Homo sapiens: one gene and its partners. The protein of the gene in region 3 purifies or fractionates together with the protein of the main gene of each other region. This does not show direct contact. Each region holds a gene or a part of one and is shown on either strand. Other genes may lie near its edges.

Evidence for each region.
Region 1: the proteins of LIG1 (region 3) and NAE1 fractionate together in Homo sapiens (co-fractionation; one large-scale study listed by BioGRID). This does not show direct contact.
Region 2: the proteins of LIG1 (region 3) and PIP4K2C fractionate together in Homo sapiens (co-fractionation; one large-scale study listed by BioGRID). This does not show direct contact.
Region 4: the proteins of LIG1 (region 3) and ARHGEF1 fractionate together in Homo sapiens (co-fractionation; one large-scale study listed by BioGRID). This does not show direct contact.
Region 5: the proteins of LIG1 (region 3) and USP48 fractionate together in Homo sapiens (co-fractionation; one large-scale study listed by BioGRID). This does not show direct contact.
Region 6: the proteins of LIG1 (region 3) and RFC1 fractionate together in Homo sapiens (co-fractionation; one large-scale study listed by BioGRID). This does not show direct contact.
Region 7: the proteins of LIG1 (region 3) and POLD1 fractionate together in Homo sapiens (co-fractionation; one large-scale study listed by BioGRID). This does not show direct contact.

Annotation. Positions count from the first base shown.
Region 1 is NC_000016.10:66,804,678-66,806,976, forward strand, and holds part of NAE1 (NEDD8-activating enzyme E1 regulatory subunit), read right to left. Parts: intron 1,350-2,299; coding exon 1,235-1,349; intron 1,150-1,234; coding exon 1,100-1,149; intron 1-1,099. UniProt on the Homo sapiens protein: Regulatory subunit of the dimeric UBA3-NAE1 E1 enzyme. E1 activates NEDD8 by first adenylating its C-terminal glycine residue with ATP, thereafter linking this residue to the side chain of the catalytic cysteine, yielding a NEDD8-UBA3 thioester and free AMP.
Region 2 is NC_000012.12:57,589,979-57,593,991, reverse strand, and holds the start of PIP4K2C (phosphatidylinositol 5-phosphate 4-kinase type-2 gamma), read right to left. Parts: upstream 2,801-4,013; 5' UTR 2,703-2,800; coding exon 2,529-2,702; intron 1,773-2,528; exon of another isoform or gene 1,675-1,772; intron 1-1,674. UniProt on the Homo sapiens protein: Phosphatidylinositol 5-phosphate 4-kinase with low enzymatic activity. May be a GTP sensor, has higher GTP-dependent kinase activity than ATP-dependent kinase activity. PIP4Ks negatively regulate insulin signaling through a catalytic-independent mechanism.
Region 3 is NC_000019.10:48,160,345-48,163,844, forward strand, and holds part of LIG1 (DNA ligase 1), read right to left. Parts: intron 2,008-3,500; coding exon 1,918-2,007; intron 1,164-1,917; coding exon 1,028-1,163; intron 1-1,027.
Region 4 is NC_000019.10:41,889,684-41,893,183, reverse strand, and holds part of ARHGEF1 (rho guanine nucleotide exchange factor 1), read right to left. Parts: intron 1,160-3,500; coding exon 1,061-1,159; intron 854-1,060; coding exon 811-853; intron 582-810; coding exon 335-581; intron 1-334. UniProt on the Homo sapiens protein: Seems to play a role in the regulation of RhoA GTPase by guanine nucleotide-binding alpha-12 (GNA12) and alpha-13 (GNA13) subunits. Acts as a GTPase-activating protein (GAP) for GNA12 and GNA13, and as guanine nucleotide exchange factor (GEF) for RhoA GTPase.
Region 5 is NC_000001.11:21,679,974-21,682,149, reverse strand, and holds part of USP48 (ubiquitin carboxyl-terminal hydrolase 48), read left to right. Parts: intron 1-1,315; coding exon 1,316-1,342; intron 1,343-2,176.
Region 6 is NC_000004.12:39,310,863-39,314,362, forward strand, and holds part of RFC1 (replication factor C subunit 1), read right to left. Parts: intron 2,070-3,500; coding exon 1,890-2,069; intron 688-1,889; coding exon 583-687; intron 1-582. UniProt on the Homo sapiens protein: Subunit of the replication factor C (RFC) complex which acts during elongation of primed DNA templates by DNA polymerases delta and epsilon, and is necessary for ATP-dependent loading of proliferating cell nuclear antigen (PCNA) onto primed DNA.
Region 7 is NC_000019.10:50,408,347-50,411,846, reverse strand, and holds part of POLD1 (DNA polymerase delta catalytic subunit), read right to left. Parts: intron 3,141-3,500; coding exon of another isoform or gene 3,063-3,140; coding exon 2,946-3,062; intron 2,726-2,945; coding exon 2,612-2,725; intron 2,329-2,611; coding exon 2,181-2,328; intron 1,907-2,180; exon of another isoform or gene 1,823-1,906; intron 1-1,822. UniProt on the Homo sapiens protein: As the catalytic component of the trimeric (Pol-delta3 complex) and tetrameric DNA polymerase delta complexes (Pol-delta4 complex), plays a crucial role in high fidelity genome replication, including in lagging strand synthesis, and repair.

The DNA of each region.
Region 1 (2,299 bases), on a different chromosome or scaffold from region 3:
CATATGTTGAAATCCTAACCCCCAGTGTAATTGTATGAGGATAGGGCCTTTGGTAGGTGATTAGGTCAAGAGCGTAGAACCTTCATGAATAGGATTAGTGCCCTAAGAAGAGACCCCAGAGACTTCTCTTGCCATTTTTTTTTTCACCATGTGAGAACACAGAAGAGAGAGCTGCCTATGAACCAGGAAATGGGCGCTCACCAGACCTGACCATGCTGGCACCCTGATCCCAGACTTCTAGCCTCCAGAACTCTGTGACAAATTTTTATTGTTTATAAGTCTATGATATTCTGTTACAGCAGCCCAAACTGACTAAGACAAGGGGGAAGTAGAGTGAGGGAGGGAAGTAAAGGGAGCTTTTATGAAAGACATGTCATTTTTGAGTTGGGTCTTGAAGAACATATAGGTTTTGGACATGCAGAAAAACATATTTTTAAGGCAAATAGGCACAGAGGAGCAAAGATCTAGGAGCAGGAAATCAAAGGGCATCCTGGGGGGAAAGCAAGTAATATGATAAAACCAAGGCTGGAAAGGCCGAGTGGAACCAAAACACAGGGTTTTTTAACGTCAAGCCAAAGTCCTTGGACTTGCTTGGAGGACTGTTGTAGAGTGTTATGTATATTGGTGGGGCAGAGGGTTAGTAAAAGGACACAATCAGAGCTATGCTTTAGAAGGATTAATGACTCTTAAGGAGTTTAAGTTGGATGGCAGTGGGAGAGATGGAAGGCAGGGAGACCAGTATAGGGGCAACTGAATAAATATCCTAACCTGAGCAACATAGTGGGACCCTGTCTCTACAAAAAATTGAAAAATTAGCCAGGCTTACTGGCACATGCCTGTAGTCCCAGCTATTCAGGAGGCGGAGGCGAGAGATCACTTGAGCCCAGGAGTTTGAGGTTGCAGCGAGCTATGATGGCATCAATACACTCCAACCTGGGCAAAACAGTGAGACTGCGTCTCAAAAAAAAAAAAAAGAAAGAAATATAACATCCTGCTTCACTGACCTCCCTAATTAAAATAGCTAGACGACAAAACTTTGTATTAAAATAGTAACTGTACTATGTAACAACAGGTGAGTCTTCTCATATATGGAACTCACCCCCCAAGAATGCAGCAATGGTATGTGGCTCAGCAGCTCCATATCGGCAACTAAAGGAGACCACAGAGACATGAATTTTGATTAGCCTTATGACAGGTGTGGAATCATCTCCTAGATACCCTAAAAAATACTCACAATTCGTGGACATAATCATCTTTCACCATTACAGATAAACCATATTCCTGAAGGAAGCCAGTGAGACAAGACTTCAACTTTCCTATATCTTCTTCAACTTGATAGTTAGATACTCCTAAAAATAAAAGTTAGTTTTCATTAAAATAAATGTGATTCAAAATTAATGGCCAACTCCTTTATTTAATCTAGTTTCAGATGTTCTAGTCAAAATATGTATGAAACTGAAGAACAAAAATAACAAAGTATGAGACCAATATTTGCACATATCACAAACCTATAATCAGAGACCAACTAAAACCTAGTAAAAATTTGAATTTAATTAAATCTTTATTAATTGCATCATATTCACTGTCTAGAAAAGCATCTGGCACATAGTGCTTAATAATTATTTGATAGAAGAACTTAATGAATGAGAAAGTAATGTCCTACTTATACCCTTTATAAAAGTTATTCTCCAATTCTAAAAGACTAAATGATAAATGACACTGAGGACATAAAGCTATTAATAATAGGTAACTTTTTTTTTTTCTTTTGAGAGAGAGTCTTGCTGTTACCTAGGCTGGAGTGCAGTGGTGCAGTCTCGGCTCACCGCAACCTCTGCCTGCCGGGTTCAAATGATTCTCATGCCTCAGCCTCCCAAGAAACTGAGACTACAGGAGTGCGCCACCACACACAGCTAATTTTTTCTATTTTTAGTTTCAGTGTTGGCTAGGCTGGTCTCGAACTCCTGGCCTCAAGTGATCCACCCGCCTTGGCCTCCCAAAGTGCTGGGATTACAGGTGTGAGCCACCATGCCTGGCCAATAATAGGTCACATTTATTGAGCATTAATAGATGCTGGACACTGTTCTAAGGACCTTATATCTATATTAATTGATTGAATCCTCAAAACAGTCCTATGAAGTATGTATAGTTATCTCCATTTATAGAAGAGAAAACTAAAGCACAGAGAGATTAAGTTACTTAGCTCATAAGTGATGCTGTATGACTTCCAAAGCTAGGTCATAAAAAGCCCTGTACCTTCCACTTGGGTTTTTTGGAATGTTAACTGCAGAAGCCAACTGAC
Region 2 (4,013 bases), on a different chromosome or scaffold from region 3:
AAGAAGGGTGTGGAGAGCTACCCATACACTGTGTCTGGGCAGCAGTCATGCAAGGGCCACTCAGACCTCATTCCTTTAAAAACACTGGCTATGCATATGCTTGACAGAAGTGAGAGAATGTGTCTAACCCTTCTGCTGCCCAAGAAGGACTACAGTAAGCAACCCTCACACACAGCCCCCAACACGCCCACCCCCATGGAACTTCATGCTCACAACAGTCATTTTATATTAGGCTAACCCTGTAAGCAACTCAGGACTATTTTTAAAGCTGTGAGAAATTCTAGAAAAAAAAAAAAAAAAAAAAAAAAAAAAAAAACTCTGCAAGCTCAAGGCAGCTACATGTTCCATTAGAAAAAGAAAAAAAAAGGCATTTTAAAAATGCACAAGAGTGTTAATGGGATTCTGTGGGGCCAACCACAGCAAAAAGGATAAATGTCCATATCCTGCAAAAGGCATCTCTTTGCAAACAGGACCAGTCTTCCTAGACCACTCTGACCCAGTTGTTTGCAGTAGGCCCCCACCTGTCTAAGGTGTAAGGTAAAGGAAGAGCAGCTGATTTCAGAGCGAATGCAGGCAATCAGAGGATATGAGCTCATTAGGCGTCTGTTCCCTAAAGCCAAACTAATCCACAGCCCAAAGGACACAAGCATCACATGCTCTCCTCGGCCCCCAGGATCTGCAGTCTGCTAATTCAGGGTAGAAAGGGAGCTCTAGTACTTAAAAATCCTGAGCCGTGCTTTCTCCTTGGTGTTGCTACAGTACCTTTCACCTGCCTTTGTTACTGCATGACTCTAATCACTAGTTTATGTAAGTTCTCCCATCTAGATTGTGAGCTCTTCAAGAACAAGGGCTCATTCTAGTCGTCTGCATCTTTCAGGTGTCTAACTAGCACAATGTTTGGCACACAGTGATCCTGACATGTCTATTAATTGAATAAATGAATGCCTTGCCTATCCTTACTAGATCATTCCACAGAGGCTATGAACTGCAGTCTAACCTAAATCACACACACTGCAGTGCAACCAACTCCTCCCGTTCTCAGTAGAAAAGGAGGACAGAACATATCCCTCCAGATTAAAAAAAAAAAAAAAGCCACTTGAGACTCCCAGCCTAAAATTCAGCTATAGCTCCTCCTGCCCCCTCCTCCCCACCTGCTAAGCAAGCTGAATCATCACTAAGACATATGTTCAAGGAATTTCTCCATTCCAAACACTTGAAGTAGATGTGTGTTGGCAGAGGGTGGGGTGCTGGGGCTAAAGTATATATACCTAGTGAAGCTGAGGTAGGTCTTACATGTAACTCCCCCAATCCTTAACAAGGGAAAACCCTCCCTGTTAAGCATCCCACAGGGAATGGATGAATCACCTGGAAGGTACATATGAGAGGCAGCCCTACCTCCATCAGCCTTCCCCATACCAAGTGCCTTCCACTGAATACTCACTAAGAGCTTACCACCCAGAGAGCCACAAATCCAAAAGAGATCCGACTGGCCACAAACAACATTCTTAATTTTTGGTTAAGAAATTCTTTACCACAAATTAAAAATGTGACAAAACGCGTATTCTTCCTCACAACTTCCATCTCCACAGCCTAGCCATGACTATATTCAAGAACGCTGATTTCGAAAATATTCCGTGTCACATTCAAGATAACTGCATTTCTCCCACTCCAGACCTGACGGAAGATGGGCAATGGCTGTGCTTCTTTCAGCTGAGGTATCCTCAGGAAAGGGGATGGAGGTCTCCTTGGCCTCCTCCTGACTCCCAGAGCAGTTTCCTGCTTCAAAAGTTCACCACCATAGTGACCTCAGGAACAGAGCCCCTCAGCCTTCTCTTTGGTCAACAATCGCCACCACCTACACCAAACACGATCGCTCTAGCCAGCGATAAGGATGCAGTTAAGACCAAAGGCATATATACATAAGTCCTGAGAGTGTGCAACTTCTAGCTCAGGGTGGGGTAGCTTCTCTAAAATGCTGTACCTCTGGAAGGGAAAGGAAGGGACAAGCAGGATTAGAAAGCCCAGGAAACCTGGAGCTTCCCCGAGACAAAACCAAGATTCAAAAGCCAAGGACCGGGGCTGGGAAGCAAGGTGGAAAGCAAAGTGAAAGAACCTTTTCATCCATCTACTCCCCTCGGCCCCTCACCCTCCACCTACACTCTCACCAACAACCACCCGAGAAAAAGCCACTCCCCCTAATGTCCTCCCCGCTTGCGCCCGGTCCTGGCCAGTCCGCGTAGCCTGAGGCTGAAGCTAGACATGGCAGGAAGGAGTCAAAGCACAGGGAGCTGGATTTCACGGGGGGAAGGTGGAACTAGAGTGGAGCAGTAAAGAACTGTTGGGGAGAAAAAAGTCCACAGTCAGAAAACCTGCTGGGGGAACACCTGGGGTTGGTGGGCAGGGACCAAGACAACCCGGGGGAGGGGAGTGGCACTGCGTGGGGCTCCGGAGGCTGGAGCCTGGAAACAGGGACGCCTCGGAGCCGAGGGGTTTGGACAGGGCTGCGGGGGTCTAGGGCTGGTTCTCACCGAGTGGGCTACGCCCCACAGGAACACACCCACCAGCGGGTCGGCCGCCCGGAACACCTTCACCTTCTGCTGCACGAAATGCTTCTTCTTGGTCTTGGAGGCGAAGCCGAAACCTGGGCCGGGGCCTGCTGTCGCCGCCGATACCGTGGCTGGTGGGACCGAGGAGGACGCCATAGTCTCCCGCGCAACCGACCAAGTGGAAGCCGGAGCCGGCAGCTATCCAGGCGCCCGACCCCGGAAGCGGCGCTCACCTGCGCTGCTGTCACGTGACCGGAGGCCGGACAGCGGACGCGCGAACAGGGCGAGGCAGGACGGGGCGGGGCGACGCTGGCCCCGCCCCCCGGCGCCTGCCTGCCTGCCCCAATGTCCGCTCAGTGTGTGGGCTCACCTGGCGTGCGGGATCCCTGTAAGCTGACGAAGCAAGCGGCCCGCGAGGCCCCTCGAACTGTCAACTAGGAGACCGTGGTGCGGCCTGGGCTGGCCTGATTGACTCCCAAGGTCTAGGGCTTCTTTGCTGCAAAGTGGCCGCCTTCCGGCTTTGCCCAGTTTCTAATGAGTAACCTCGGACCTGATGCTAATGCGAAAGCATTCTTACCGAATGGGGGTTGGGAAGGGGAGGGTTTTGGAAACCCAAAATTCTTACCAGTGGTCTCAAGCGTCTTGAAATTCATTCATTCATTTAACAAGTATTTATTGTGCACTTAGTTGTACTAGGTCCTGTTCTAGGGGCTGATTTTCCTTTTATTGAAGCAGGGTATAGGACAGTGACTGCCCCGAAGTAGTTGGGAGTCTAATGGCACTGGCTGGCCAATGGAGATCAAGTTTGCAGTATGCAAAGTATGAGCTATCCTAGAACTGTGTATGAAGCAAAGACAATGATACAAAGAAAGGAAGTGTAGCTGGTCAGGGAAGGCTTCAAAGAGGATAGAGACTTTACTGAGTTTGGAAGGGTGGGTGGAGTTCAGGAATAGAGGTTAAAAGGCTGTCTAGACAAAGAGAACAGCATACAAAGACATGGAGACAAGAAAGAACGAAGCCGGGCGCGGTGACTCACGCCTGTAATCCCAGCACTTTGGGAGGCCGAGGCGGGAGGATCACCTGAGGTTGGGAGTTCAAGACCAGCCTGGCCAACATGGTGAAACCTCGTCTCTACAAAAATACAAAAATTAGCCGGGCATTAGCCGGGCGTGGTGGCGTGAGCCTGTAATCCCAGCTACTCAGGAGGCTGAGGCAGGAGAATCACTTGAACCCAGGAGGCGGAGGTAGCAGTGAGCCGAGATCACGCCAAGCAGAGATCACGCCAAGCAGAGATCACGCCACTGCACTCCAGCCTGGGTGACAGAGTGAGACTCCATCTCAAAAAAAAAAAAAAAAAAGCCGGGCATGTTGGCAGGTGCCTGTAGTCCCAGCTACTTGAGAGGCTGAGGCAGGAGAATCGCTTGAACCCAGGAGGCAGAGGTTGCAGTGAGCCCAGATCATGCCATT
Region 3 (3,500 bases):
AGGCTGGGAAAGAAGGTAGTGGCCCAGAGGTGGAAGTGCACCTGGTGGGTGTGGGAAGCCAGGATGGAGCGAGCTGAGGAGGAGCTGTGGATGCGGCTGCAGATGTGATGGGCGGGGGAAGAGAGGAGCAGCAGGAGGGGCCTGGGAGGTTTCCACAAGGCCTGGCTTTGGCCTGTGGTGGTAATACCAGGGGGTTTGGGCAGGGAGTCACAGGACCTGACCTCACCACTGACAGAATAAGCAGCACCACGCTTTGGACATCATCCACAAAGCAATGAACAAGCATTAAATGACTTAAACAGGGGAAGAGAGTGGTCCAATGTATTTGGAGAAGTTAAAAAGCCCTCTGACCACAGGAGAGGCTAGATATACTTTTGAACCCTTATTTTTTTGCTTTTTTTTTTTTGAAGCAAGGTCTTGCTCTGTCACCCCGGCTGGAGTACAGTGGTACAATCACAGTTCACTGCAGCCTTGAACACCCGGGCTCAAGCGATCCTCCTGCCTCAGCCTCTCAAGGAGATAGCACCACAGGCATGCACCACCACACCTGGCTAATTTTTAAAACATTTTTTTGTAGAGATGGGGTCTCGCTATGTTGCCCAGCCTGGTCTCGAACTCCTGGCCTCAAGTGATCCTCCCACGTTGGCCTCCCAACGTGCTGGGATTACAGACGTAAGCCATTGTGCTGGGCCTTGAGCCCTTGTTTTACCATCAGGCATTATTCTCAGATCTGTATGTAAATCGACTCATTTCATCTTCCCAGTCACCCTATGAGGAAGGTGTTACCAGGAGCTGCATGTTACAGTTGAGGCATCCAAGACCTAACGTGGTGAAGGAGCCCACCCGAGGTCCTAGGGCAGGGGCAATTAGGACCAGGTTGTGTCTGCCCCCGACACAACCAGGAAACACATCTACCTCTCCCGGGCAATTTCTCCAGAATTCTCCTGAACAGCTGCTGCACTCTGTTCCAAAGGTTAATGGGAATTAGTTTCTTCTGGTAAAAATGGGCAGGGTGATGGGGACCTACCTGGCCTTTAGCAGGGCTAAGGGCTTCATCCTCCTCTTCCCCTTCGCTGCCCAGGACCCGGGCCGCCTTCCTCCCTGGCCTCTTCACCGGAGAGTCACTCTCGGACACCACTCCATTCCACTCCTTCAGTGCCGCCCTGGAAGGTGGGGAAATGGGGGTGTAAAGGGGCGACTACAGCAGGCAGAGTGGGGGCACTGCCCGCAAACACTTTGGTTTCTTTGCTGTTTCCTTCCCTTCCTTTCAAGCATCCAATGAACATTTTCTGGTTGTCTCCTCAGCAAATCTCATCATTTCATCCATCAGTGCATTAATCCACCCGCCCACTCATCCACTCACCCACCCATCACACATCTCTGGAAGTCTCCAGAGTGCCTGCCCTGTGATGGGTGATGCTGAGGAGCAAATGGAGTCCCTGCCTAAGGTTGCCATTGGTCTCCAGCATCTATTGGGATGCCTTTTTTTTTTTTTTTTTGAGATGGAATCTTGCTCTGTCGCCCAGGCTGGAGTGCAGTGGGCCGAGATCACACCATTGCACTCCAGCCTGGGTGAGAGTGAGACTCCATTTCAAAAAAAAAAGAGTACTGTTGTCTTCTACTTAGATGAGACAGCATCAAGACGTGGCCAGTGGCCAGCGGCCAGCTTCTCTGCATTATGGAGAATGTCTGGTTCTAGAACGAGGCCAAGACCTGCAGAAACAGAGACGTACAGACAACTCCGAGGCCCTGGATCCAGCTGTGCCTGCAGCTGCTCTTGCTCTTGGACTTCTGGCCACCTGGCTGAAAAAGTTTTTTGGGCCCCAAGACATTTTGCATTAGGTTTGAACACTTGCAACCAAGACAATCCTGACTGCTAAAGGAAAAAATTCACCATATCCCAGCCCTGTGACATACTTTGGAGGGGGCTCCGTCTCTCTGCTGCTATTGGATGCCTCCTTCTCAGGCTTCTTTGCTTTACCCTCTTTCTTGGGGTGGAAAAATGACCTAGAGGAGCATAAAAGGGGGTAAAAAAAGGAGAATAACAGCACCAATACCCTGCCTATCTATGCTGTATCCTATAACTTCCTTTTTTTTTTTTTTTTTTGAGACAGAGTCTCGCTCTGTAGCCCAGGCTGGAGTGCAATGGCGCAATCTCAGCTCACTGCAAGCTCCGCCTCCTGGGTGCATGCCATTCTCCTGCCTCAGCCTCCCAAGTAGCTGGAACTACAGGCACCCGCCACCATGCCCAGCTAATTTTTTGTATTTTTAGTAGAGATGGGGTATCACCGTGTTAGCCAGGATGGTCTCGATCTCCTGACCTTGTGATCTGCTTGGCCTCCCAATGTGCTGGGATTACAGGCATAAGCCACCGCGCCCGGCCGCATCCTATAACTTCTAACACCATTTCCATCTCAGCACATAACAGAGAATTTCAAATAAGCCCTTTAACTTAACTGATAAGGAAACTCAGACTCAGACAAAGGAGGCAACACTAATTTTTCTGCCCTAACGCACCTGCAAGATATGATACATCCCAAGTTTTATTCAACAAATATTAACTATGCACTTTTTAAATCTTTTTTTTTTAGACAGACTCTCGCTCTGTTGCCCAGGCTAGAGTGCAATGGTGTGATCTCGGCTCACTGCAACTTCTGCCTCCCAGGTTCAAGCGATTCTCCTGCCTCAGCCTCCCGAGTAGCTGGGATTACAGGTGCCCACCACAACGCCCAGCTAATTTTTTTTGTATTTTTGGTAGACACGGGTTTTCTCCATGTTGGCCAGGCCAGTCTCAAACTCCTGACCTTAGGTGATCCACCCACCCTGGCCTCCCAAAGTGTTGGGATTACAGGCATGTGCCCCCGCGCCCAGCCTAAAAAAATTTTTTTTTTTGAGATGGAGTTTTCACTCTTGTTGCCCAAGGGTGGAGTGCAATGGTGCAATCTCGGCTCACTGCAACCTCGGCCTCCCAGTTTCAAGTGTTTCTCCTGCCTCAGCCTCCTGAGTAGCTGAGATTACAGGTGGCCGCCACCACGCCCGGCTAATTTTTTTCATTTAGTAGAGAAGGGGTTTCACCATGTTGGTCAGGCTGGTCTCGAACTCCTGATCTCAGGTGATCCTCCTGCCTCCCAAAGTGCTGGGATTACAGGTGTGAGCCACTGCGCCCGGCCTACCTAAGCACTTATTATGTGCCAGGGCCTGTTCTGGGCCTGAGGGGTTTGGCAGTGACCCAGACACACGAAGTTCCTGCCTTCAAGAAGCTAACACTCTGGTGAAGGGCAGAAATATTAAGCAAACAACTAAATATAAAATGTTGGGGCCTGGCATGGTGGCTCACACCTGTAATCCCAACACTTTGGGAGGCCGAGGTGGGCGGATCACGAGGTCAGGAGATCAAGACCATCCTGGCTAACACGGTGAAACCCTGCTTCTACTAAAAATACAAAAAAAATTAGCTGGGTGTGGTGGCAGGCGCCTGTAGTCCCAGCTACTCAGGAGGC
Region 4 (3,500 bases), 6.3 Mb from region 3:
TAGGCAGGGGGAAGAGAGACAGAGAGGGGACACTGTGGAAGGGATTGGGAAGGACTGTCATAAGAGGGAGGGAGGTCTCTCATCCAGGAGGATGGGATCCAAGTGCCAGATCATGGACAAGACCCAGAAATGACAAGGGAACCCCAAAGCTGGAAAGGGAAGACTCGGATTCAAGGTGAGTTAAAACACCAGGGTAGAGGAAGACCCCCAGTGCCAAGAAATGAACTCTGACCCTGAAGAGGGAACCTGCAAACGGGATGGAACATGCCAGAGGTAGCACGGGTGCCCTTGTGCTGGGGAGGGGCGACGCTCCCACCAGGGCTGGCCTACTCACTGCATCTCCTCCAGGTGCATGAGCAGCCGCTCCGCCACGTGCCGCTCCCGGGCCTCGTAGCTGGCTCGGTCCCGCCCAACCCAAGCCTCCAGCTGGGCCAGCTCCTGCTCCCAGGGCGTCATGCCCATGAGCCGCTTGGAACGGAAGTCCTCCAGCTGCCGGCCCACGGCTACCTGCTGGCTTTGCACCACCTCCTGCACGAACCGCCGCTGGACATCCTCGGAGATGAGGTCAGCCCTAGTGCGGTCTGCAGGGACACACATGGGGGCTAGGGTCCAGCTCCCTGGTGGCTTGGACCACGGTCCCCACCCACCCTTGGACTCCAACAGCCACACGTCCTGAGGCCGCTGCCAAGAAGGAATGAATGAATCTCGGCTGTCCGAGCAGAGCATGGGAGTGCGGCCTCCCTCCCCTTGGCCTCCTGGGAGGTGTGGTCCCCGCTAGACACCTCTCCCTCATCCCATCCTTCTCCTTACCAAGTTCAAAGGCGACGTTGGGAGGGACCGGCACCCGGAGAACCTGCTCAAGAGAGAGAATGGGGTGAAGAGGAGGACTTGGTGTGCTGAGATGCAGGCCGGGAGGACTGCCAGGAACCCTGGTCTAAGCGAGGGTGCTGGGGAAGGCCTGGGTCAGCAGCTGCCCTCAGGGCAGAGGCTGGGGACCGCATGGTGACTCTGCAGGCCCAAACAGGGATTGCAGGGTTGGGGCAGCTTGAAGGTCTCTCACCGCTGTCTTCTCCAGGAAGCTGTGGTAGAAGTCCAGGAAGGCCTTCTTGGCCTCCTTGGGGCCCAGTGAGCCCAGCATGTCGGCATGCAGACAGCAAAGCTGGGGGAGACACACAGCATGACTCTCCGCTCCCTCACCCTGCCTCAAACCACACTCTCCCTTTGAAAAGGGCCTTCCTCACCTCCTGGCCATCCTATGGCTGTGGGACTCAACTGCCACTTCCTCTGGGAAGCACTCCCTGACCTCCACCCCTAAAGCCAGGCCCTGGGTTCCCCTGCAGGCTCCCTGGGGCTGCCATGAGCATTTTCTAATTTTCCATCCTGTGCTATGGTCCTTTGTGGTTCTTCATCATGGTCTCCTCCCGGCAATAATGACAACAACTACTACTACTGTCTATACTGACGGCTTAGTGTATACCAGACACGGCTCTACACCCTCTACATGCATTAACGTGTTCAATCATAGGGACCGTCATTATCCCCATTTTACAGATGAGAAAACGGAGCTCAAGAAGTTTAGTCAAGCTTAGTCGCACAACTAGGCTAGGCACAGTGGCTCACACCTGTAATCCCAGCACTTTGGGAGGCCAAGGCAGGTGGATCACATGAGGTCAGGAATTTGTGACCGGCCAGGCCAACATGGCGAAACCCTGTCTCTACTAAAAATAAAAAAATTAGTCGGGTGTGGTGGTGGGCACCTGTGATCCCAGCTACTCGGGAGGCTGAGGCAGGGAGAACTGCTTGAACCCAGGAGATGGAGGTTGCAGTGAGTGGAGATTGTGCCACTGCACTCCAGCCTGGGTGACACAGAGCGAGACTGTTTCATAAATAAATAAATAAATAAAACCCAAAATCACATAGCTACTAAGTGGCAAAGTTAGGATTCGAATCCAGGCAGCCTGTCTCTACTACACTCCACTGCCTGGAAAGACTGTGAGCAGCTTAAGGGTTTGTGTGTGTTGAGGGGTGTTGTAGGTTGATCCATCTGTGTCCCAGATGGTGGTGCCTTGTGCATACTGAGGGCTTGGAAAGAACAGGTGGACAAGTGGGGCTCACTCTGTCATTCGTCAAGCATTTCCTGAGTGCCCGCCCCTGTTCTGGGTGACAGTGGGGACTCCAACCTGTCCTGGCTCCTGGGGGCTCTCATCTGGGAAATGAACTCACTCCAATGGGAGTGGGACTTTTTCTCCTTTTTCTTTTTTGAGATGGAGTCTCGCTCTGTCACCCAGGCTGGAGTGCAGTGGCGTGATCTCGGCTCACTGCAACCTCCTCCTGGGTTCAAGCGATTCTCCTGCCTCAGCCTCTGGAGTAGCTTGGATTACAGGTGCCTACCACCAGGCCTGGCTAATTTTTTTTTTTTTTTTCCGCCTAGGCTGGAGTGCAATGGTGCAATCTCGGCTCATTGCAACCACCACCTCCCAGGTTCAAGTGAGTCTCCTGCCTCAGCCTCCCGAGTAGCTGGAATTACAGGTGTGTACCACTGTGCCTGGCTAATTTTTCTATTTTAGTAGAGATGGGATTTCACCATGTTGGCCAGGCTGGTCTTGAACTCCTGACGTCGGGTGATCCACCTGCCTCAGCCTCCCAAAGTGCTGGGATTATATGCGTGAGTCACTGCGCCTGGCCAATTTTCATATTTTTAGTAGAGACGGGGTTTTACCATGTTGGCCACGCTGGTCTCGAACTCTTGATCTCAAGTGATCTACCCACCTCAGCCTCCAAAGTTCTGGGATTATAGGTGTGAGCCACCATGCCCGGCCCCACTTTTTTTTTTTTTTCAAGACAGGGTTTCACTCTTGTCGCCCAGGCTGGAGTGCAGTGGTGCAATCACTGCAGCCTCAACCTCCCAGGCTCAAGCTATCCTCCTGCCTCAGCCTCCCAAAGCGTTGGGACTACAGTCATGAACCACCAGGCCCGGTCCTCCTTCTCCACTTTAAACAGTTTTAACACATCTATATCCACTCTTCACACCCCCCAAATATAGCAAAATTCTAAGACAGGCCAACAGGAAGCTGCCCAGGGGACCACAGCTATCTCTGATCGGCTCCCCACAAGCTGATGAGGTGAGGGAGCTATGCGAGAATAAACCTCAAAATGCCCAGAGGCCGCCGGGGTCACCTCAGGCAAGTCCCTGACCCTCTCTAGGCCTCGGTTTCCACATCTGTAAAAGAACATGGTAGTCAGCACGATCCCTGGGCTGATGTCCACAATCTGGTGTTCTAGAAACCCCAAGGCTTGAATAGGGGACTCCCTTGCTCAGAGGGCCAGAGTCTCCGTGCATGTGGTTGTCGGGGGAACCACTCTTCTGGAAAGAGAATGTAGACAGGGGAAAGACTGCAATTTCCTAATTTTCTGCATATCTGATGGTTTGGCGTCCGGATGACCAGCCTCTGGTCTTGCAGCTGACATGTTCTTCTTTCTGCATGCCTCGGGCACTTCTC
Region 5 (2,176 bases), on a different chromosome or scaffold from region 3:
TGATCTGTCATGCACCGTCTGCCATGATACTGTGTGAGGATGTGTTCTTCTTCTTAAACATTAAATCAAGAAAGAATCAACAGTGGACCCAGTAAATAGCAGATCAGCCTAGGATAAGATGCCCTAGAAGATGGTGAAGGGAAGTCTCAGAACTACTGTTCTTCAGCAGGCAGCGAAGACACCTGATCCATATTGGAGTGGTGGGATGCGAGCTTCAGGAAGGGATGCCACAAGGAAAAGTGGAAGGGATGATGACTGTCTTCAAGAGGTTACAGGTCTTTAAGAATTTACACGTGAATTGGAGATAAATACAGAGAAAATGAAACACATCAGTAATTCAGTAGTTACCAAGCCCAGAAAGACCAAGTCATACCATGTAGTAAATATAACCAAGGTGCACCAAGGCATTCAACTGTGACTAGTATTAATGGCGTAAAAAGTAATGCCAGCGCTGGAGACTGGCTTAACAACAACAAACACCACTTCATCAGGAGGATGGGTCGGGGCAGGTGCTATGTAAGTGGTAAAACAGCTGTTTGTATCCTTCACTGAAGAATTTATTAGATTTTTATCTAAAATTATGAAGTAGGCCAGGCACGATGGCCCACTCCTGTAATCCCATCACTTTGGGAGGCTGTGGCGGGCGGATCACTTGAGGTCAAGAGTTCGAGACGAGCCTGGCCAACGTGGTGAAACCCTGTCTCTACTACAAATACAAAAATTAGCCAAGTGTGGTGGTGGGTGCCTGTAATCCCAGCTACTTGGGAAGCTGAGGCAGGAGAATTGCTTGAACCCAGGAAGCAGAGGTTGCAGTGAGCCGAGATCATGCCACTGCACTCCATTCTGGGTGACAGAGCTGGACACCCTCTCAAAAAAAAAAAGTAAATAAAATTATGAAAAGCATGTTATTTAGAAATAGGCTAAATACCAGAAGAAGCTGCTGTGTGAGTCAAAAGTGACTCCTTCCAGAACTTGGGAATGGGAGGAGGAAGGGGAGAGAGACAGCTCCAGAGGAGTCAGTTACATGGCTTCCTCCCAGGCCACTCCTAGAGTCGTGCACTAGGTGTGCCCTAGTTACAAACCTTGTCCTGTCAGTATTTGACTTTTTAAATGATGCATACGTATTGCTTTGATAAAAACAGAAACAAAGATTGTTCTGAAATTAGTAACATCCGTAACTTCAAAGATGATTATTACAGGTGACAAAGGTAATCAAAAGTTATTTTAAACTTTTGTCTTTAAGCATTGAAATGATATTACTGTCTGTCACGACAATCTTTTCAATTTGGAATTCTTCTTTTTTTCTTTTTTTCAGTTTGTATGCCAGAAGAAGGGTTTAAAGGTAAGTTACATTTGTCATGTTTTGTTCATGAATGTCAGAGTCATCCTGTAATTTTCTGTTAAAGCGAAGGCTATAATTTGATTTTAAATTTTAATCCAATCTGAGTCTCATGACTGAAATTAATTTTAGTTAAATGCATTTCTTACTCAAGCTTCTTCATTATCTTTTTCAACACTCAGGCCTCAAATGGGGCCTCAGCTGGGGCTTTTGTGTTAGAACTGTTTCTTGCCAGATGTCCATTTGGCCTTCCCTTTCTCATTTTATGGGAGGTTGGGAAATTAGCTAGTGGCATTTCAAGATTTATTTTTAACCTTTTCCCAGTTCTTCCTATCAAGTCCCCTCCTAGAGCAAAACAGTGTGTAACTATTAAGAATTAGTGGCACAAGAATTTGTCAGGTTTTATCAAGTCCAGTGAAAAGATTTAATTAATCACTTAGCATTAAGGCATTTGTTGGATTATTACTTCAAGAGGAGACACGGTGGTGCTCGTACTACATCTGGGCCATGTAGTTGTGCACACCGATAATATTCAAGAAGTCATCAAATACAGACCTCTGACGTTTTCGGATTTTCCTGTTGCTGTCTTGATTCTTTGCTGGCCACTCCAGAAGCCCCTGGCAGGTTGTGATTTTCTAAGGAATGACTTTGAATCACATACCAGCTATTCCTTGCTAAAGCAAATGAGAGACAAATCTACTGGCCAAAATAAAGTCTTCCTCTTGCTGCAGCTGTGTTGTCTGCATGCTACCATTACAAAGGGACTCCTGATGGGGTCAAAACAAAGCAAAAAACGTCTTTATGAAAAATGGTCATTGGCCGGGCATGGTGGCTCAC
Region 6 (3,500 bases), on a different chromosome or scaffold from region 3:
CGGGAACAGTGGCTCACACCTATAATCCCAGCACTTTGGGACGCTGAAGTGGGTGAATCACTTGAGGTCAGGAGTTCAAGGCCAGCCTGGCCAACATGGTGAAACTCCGTCTCTATTAAAAATATAAAAATTAGCAGGCGTGGTGTCAGGTATCTGTAGTTCCAGCTACTCAGGAGGCTGAGGCAGGAGAATCGCTTGAACCCAGGAGGCAGAAGTTGCAGTGATCCGAGATCACACCACTGCACTCCGACCTGAGGGACAGAGCTAGACTCTGTCTCAAAAAATTAAAAAATAGTAGTAATAATAGTAATATGGAAAATAAGGAAAGTTTGATAAGTAGATATGTTATATGCAATATACTGTCCTTTCTCTACTCATATTCCCTGACAAAGATAAGGAAAAACAACAAAGTAGACATCTTGAAGCAGAGTCTTCCAGCTCAAAAGGAACTAAGGTGGTCCATTTGTGGTAGACAGGGATGTTAATCTTTCAGCCAACAAGCCTGTATCCACCCAAGACATATGTCTATGAAATTAAAAAGTTAATATACACCAACTTAAATCACATTCATTTTATACGAACCTCAGTTTCAACTGCTATTTCATACTTGGATTTCTTGCCTGGCATAGTCCGAATCAGATTCAACAGGCCATCTTCATCAATAATTTTTGTCCCCAAGGCTGCGGCCTGTTGATTAAAAATGTAAACCATCAAAACTGCATCCTGCATCCTACCATTCCCTTCTCTTACAAAAAAAAAAATTCTAGGGCCTATTAGTAGGTGAAAAACCACATTCGTAAATTAAGATAACACTGGAATTAAAAAAGAAAAACAAAAAATAGCACATTCATTGAAAAAGTAACATTGAAAAGAAAGAAAATAACAGATACATTCCCTAAGAGTAGCAGGTTGGCATGGGAAGTGGTCCATTTCTACTTTTGTGGACTGCTTTACCTTTCCTCCCCTAGAAAGGGGCAATGGCCACTAGGGCCTAAGACCAGCTCTTCATACCTTCTCCCATATTTAATGCATATGGCAGACATTTCCCCCACCTTCTTCCCTGCTGATGGAACTCCAATGTGTCCTTCTTCAAGTGATGAATGATGACTGGTCCAAGGCAACCAGAAACGTCTTGGTTCTTCCCAACCTCCCATACAGCTCTGAGTGGCCAGGTGACAGCTCTGGCCAATGAGCCTTATGTGAAATTCTATAAGACATGTTTCTGGGAAAACTCTCGTCAGGCCAGTCACAGCTCTTATGACATACTTGCCACTGTTCCCTTTTCCTGCCTTGAATAAGAATTTAAATGCCTAGAGCTGCAACTACCTTGCAACCACAAGGCAACATGCATGAGGACAAAAGTTAACACAATAAGGACAGATGGAGGAACCACATCGTTGAGATGCCGAACTATCCCAGCAATACCTCCAGAATTCTTGTGAGAAAAATTAGCAGCTGTTTAATCCACGGTTAATCAGATATTCTGCTGTTTGGAGCTAAACACAATCCTACCCAACAGGCCGCTGATTCTTTTTCTAAAAACACCAATTTAAAAAAACCTAAGATGGTGTATACAGTGGCATATATAGGAATACTTCGGACTGGAAGAAAAAGAAAACTGCATTTGTTTCTATCTTCAAAAATAAAAAAAGACTTAAACTTAAATACACTAAAAAAAAGTCAAGTAAACAGGAACTATGCCTTCCATTGGAAAACCAAAATCCTGGTGTCAGAGCCAATAACACTTCTGTGGAGAAGAAATAATGTAGGCAAGAAATTACTTTTCTATTTCTTTCCTTCATTTAACTCTGAGTAAAGGGCAAATCACATCAAGAGTGTGCCAAGGCAGGCAGGAGGTGTCATGGTGTTGAGAACAAAGCAGTACCCACCTTATCACTCTTGGACTGTCCACTATCACGACCCATGACAAGATAATTTGTTTTCTTGCTGACATTTCCTGTTACTTTTCCCCCATAACGTTCAATTAGAGACTTGGCCTCATCTCGTTCAATAGACTCCAGCACGCCTGTGATTACAAATATAAGGCCTTCCAAGCAATTTTCAGCTCCCTAAAAACCAAAATGTTCAAGCAGAGAGGAAATTACATGGTAGCTTTCCAAAGAAACATTTGGCATCAAAACTGCAGGAAGTTGATTTTTCTCATTTCACATCATAAATAACCTTGGCATGGAAAGTTTGCTGGAAATTTACAGCAAATAAGCACCACCTGAAATTAGATCCTAAGAAATTTTGATATGGCTAACGTTTAATAAACTTACAAAACAAGCAGTGAAAAACATACATCCAACACTGTTAGCAAAGCTATTAAAATTACCCATTCATACTATTTTCCATTATGCCCTCTTCATATCTAAACTACTAGTTAACTTGCATAACTATAAATAAACAACCAAATGCAATCCATCTGTAGAAACTCTTGCTATTCAGGAAACTGCTTGTTCTTAAGAACTTTCCCAACAAGAATTTAATAGAAGCAGGTATACTCCTATCATTTTGATGTTTCTGTTAATGTTTCGAAACAATGTACTTTAAAATCAGAATCACTTCTTATCATTTTCAAATACTTCTGATGCTTTTCACCACATTAGTGATCAGAAATGAGGTCTAATTCCCCAATCCCTGCCCGCAAGAGCTAAGTAGGATCTTAACTGTAAGTTGAAGGGAGTTTTGCCCGAACTCATGGATTGTACAAGAACAAACTGCTGCTGGGTTGGATGGTCTGCCAATGGATTGTGGTGTGGCATATCTGAAGGCTACTGAATGCAACTTATAATGCTTAATAAAAAATTTTTACTGTTTTATGGGAAAAAAGGGAAAAAAGGCAACTCTTGCTATTGTTAAAAAGGGAAAGTTTTGATTCTAAAAAGCTAAGCAAGTGTGAGCTCGTGCCTTCCTCTCTGCTCATTACTCTAGGATAGTAAATCTAGCAATCTTCTAGTAACTTAAAGGCAAGATCGTATTATCTCTGGATTGGAAAGATAACTCTCATAATGTATAATATAAGAGATACTTGCCAAAGAGAGCTGGATGGAAAAGACATTAAATCTTAATTGGAACTATGTTGAGTTATATATTTTTGCAATGGTTCAATAAAATTATACAACCAAACAAAATGAAAATTATACATGACATTCCAAGTTACTTATTACTCTTTTAATAGAGAATTGAGATTAATAAACTTAAAATGGGCTTGAAAAGCAGCAGCCAACCAAAATTCAAAGACTGCCTCCATGTAAGTTCAATCCTTCACCATTCAGATGAAGAATCTTTCTCGGAAGACAAAAAGAAACAGCTATGAAGGTGCTTGGAAAGAAAAGGTTTGACTAACAATATCTCAGGGTCCCTTGAAGCCTTTATGGGTTCTTGGATTGAAATGATCTACTGTAACACTACAGGAACTTAACTACTTCTGAACAAACTCAAAACAACCCTGGAAAAATTGCACATGCAAGCCCCTATATCCCATATCCCAAACATCT
Region 7 (3,500 bases), 2.2 Mb from region 3:
TTTTTTTGAGACGGAGTTTTGCTCTGTTGCCCAGGCTGGAGCGCACTGGCGCAATCTCGGCTCACTGCAACCTCTGCCTCCTGGGTTCAAGCGATTCTCCTGCCTCAGCCTCCCGAGTAGCTGGGATTAGAGGCACCTGCCACCACTCCTGGCTAATGTTTTGTATTTTTAATAGAGACAGGGTTTCACCATGTTGGCCAGGCTGGTCTTGAACTCCTGACCTCGTGATCCGCCCGCCTCGGCCTCCTAAAGTGCTGGGGTTACAGGCGTGAGCCACCGCGCCCAGCCAATTCATTGCATTTTTATTATTCCACCTCTTGCTCCCATAAGCTTGAGAGACAGAAATAAGGAAAGAGGTCAAGAGACAGAAACAGAACAGTGACAGAGGGAAGCGGCTGAGAGAGAAAAGACAGAGACACAGGATTGGTAAGAGGCAGCCCCAGGGGAGGGCCAAGCTGTGCTCTCTTGGCCTGGCCTCTGCTTCAGGGCTAGAGCCTGATGTCCACACAGCCACCCCTTTCCACCAAGGAGGCTGGGGAGGCAGCCGGGGACTGTGAAAGGCAGAGGGGAGTTGGGAGCATGCAGTGAGCGATTCACTTTGTGCAAAGAAAGGTCTGGCTCTTGCCTGGCTCCTGGTAGTCTAAGCCCCTAGAATATCCCGCCTGATAACAGTGTCTCTGTTCCAGCCTGGGCAACATGGCGAGACCCTATCTCTACAAAAAATAACAAAAATAGGTGGCACGTGCCCGCAGTCCCAGCCACTTGGGAGGCTAACGTGGGAGGCTCACCTGAGTCCCGGAGGTTGAGGCTGCAGTGAGCCACGATTGTGCCACTGCGCTCCAGCCTGGGTGAGAGAGTGAGACTCTGTCTCAAAAAAAAAAAAAAAAAAGGTGTTTGTGTACCTGGGACTTTGAACCACACCAGGTAGTTGACACTAACATGGTTTATGGTAGGGCCCTGGGCCATGCAGTATCAGTTTGACCTCTGGGGGTTGCTGAGGGGCCTGGGGATGATGGAGTCACTAAGGCCAGTCACAGGGTGCTCCATGCCTATAGGACTGACACCCAAGAAAAACCCTGGACCCCAAAGCTTGGGTGAGAGCCTCTGGTTGGCAATGCTGCATGTGTGCAGGCACGCATCAAAACTGGGAGGAAGGAGGGCCAGCCTGGCAACTCTACTGGGAGAGCACAACTGGAAGACACGCCTGGTCCCTCCTATACCCTGCCCTGTGCACCTCTTTCTTTTGCTGAGTTTAATCTGTGTCCTTTTGCTGTATTAAATCATAACCATGAGAACCAGCTTTTCTGCTCTCTGAGTACTTCTAGTGAATCACTGAACCTAAGTGGTCTTTGGGACCCCCAGAACTGCGGGTGGGTGGGTGTGTGCAAAGGCCCCACCCACTGAGAATTCATCCAAGCCTTCCACCCAGAGCCCTGTGAAAAGTGGCGCAGTGCCCAGCCAGAGAGGGAGCTCCCCGTGGCTAGAGGTAACCAAGCAGAGCAGCACAACTACTGGCCTGGAATGGGCCAAGACTCAAGTCCCAGGGGAGAAGGCTGGACAGGAAGACCCTTCCGAGGCCCTCATATGCCAGGAGCTGGGGCACTGACCCCAGCTTGGCAATCTCGGAAACTCAGGCCCTCTGTGGTTTCAAAGAATCTGTTTTTCTGTTCAAGCAGCAGAGCTGCCGTGGGTAGGCAGACCGGGACGCTGCCGTGGGGACGGTGAATGGCTTCCCTCCCCACGTCCCTTGGCCTCTGTGTGAGCGTCGCCTATTGAGAGGGGTGAGTCCCGCCCAGCCCCATCACTCCCCGACAGTCCGCACCTCCTGCTTTATCCGGCTGCAAAGCTCGTAGCGCCACTTGTGTCCTAAACACGTTTACACAGACCTGTCAGTGTCCCCACTGGGCTGCAAGATGACAGGGACAGGAGCTCTCATCCATTTTGTTCCCCTCTGTATCCCCAGGGCACAGAGTGAGCCCTGACCACAGTGTGTGCTCAGTAGGCATTTGCTGAGTGAAGGAATGGACCAATTGCTCAAGCCACATTGGCATCCTCTCTCTAGAAGGCCAGTGAGTTGGGGTGCCCAGTCCTCTGGATACAGGTCCCCCACATGGAGCCCTGGTCTCCTACACAGGGGGCCCACCTGCCCCCAGTTGCCTTCCAGGGGCCCGAGTGCCCACCTGTGAGATCTCCAGGCACGGCAACTTGCCCACCTGGGCGCCAGTGAAGCCGTATACGGAGTTGGCGCTCACCTTCAGCGCCAGCTGCCGTCCATCCAGGACCTGGCGCCGGAGGGGGTCTGTCTCCTTGGCCAGCTCGGCCTTGGCCCTGCGAGGGAACACGGGGAAAGCACACTCAGGCGGCACCTGGGCATTGGTCAGGGCTCCTTTCTGGAAGTGAGTGCCATGTACGGTTGGGCGTACTGTGCACTGCACAGAAGCTTCTGGCCAAGGGGGCAAAAGGAAGCTGCCAGGAGGGGATGCCTTGTGCTAATTCACGCACAGCTGAGGGCAGGGTGGCTGGGCAGCCCTGGGGTGTCCCAGTGAGGGACAGGGATTGCCCAGAGGCCCCAACAGGTCTGAGCTCCAAGCAGGCGATCTCCAGGGCTCACCTCTTCCGGGCACTGAGCAGGTTCTCCAGGATCTGGGGCAGCAGCCCCTTCCGCACTGAGGTCTTCACAAACTCGTCCCCGGTGGGGGTCCTGATGAACTGATCCTCAGTCAGGCTGGGTTGGAAGATGTTGGGGTGACTGCCGGCCACCCTCCTGCTCCAGCCCACCTCTGCCCTACGGTCCTGGCCTTGGCCATGAGCACACGCAGGCCCCTCAAGCACCCCTCCACTCCCTACTATCTCTGGGCCTGTGCCTATGCCCCCCACCAGACTGAGCCCCCCAAGGGAAGGCCCAGATGGGCCTCGGGGGACACATGCTGAATTGGGCACTATACCCCAGTTTCTGTGCAGTCCCGGGCCGAAGGAGCGTGGTGTAACACAGGTTGTGGGCCATCATGATGGACGGGTACAGCGAGGAGAAGTCCAGGGTGGCGATGGGGACGTCGTAGTACCTGGGAGGGGAGCAGCCGCGGCCGGGAGTCAGGGCTAGGAGTTCCCATGCCGCCCCCGCCCTGTCTTGTGGCCTCACCCTTTAAAAAAAAAAAATCATTCATTGGCTGGGAGCAGTGCTCGCTCCTGCAATCCCAGCACATTGGGAGGCTGAGGCAGGAGGATCGCTTGAACTCAGGAGTTTCAGATCAGCCTGGGCAACATGGCAAAACCCTATCTCTACAAAAAAATTTTAAAAATTAGCCAGGTGTGGTGGTGCACGCCTGTGGTCCCAGCTACTCAGGGGCCTGAGGCAGGAGGATTGCTTGAGCCTAGGAGGTGGAGTAAGCCAAGATCATGCCACCGCACTCCACCCTGGGTGACAGAGTGAGACCCTGTGTCAAAAAAAGAAAAAGAAAAAGAAAAATAATATATATAATTAATCTACTATTTTATTTTAT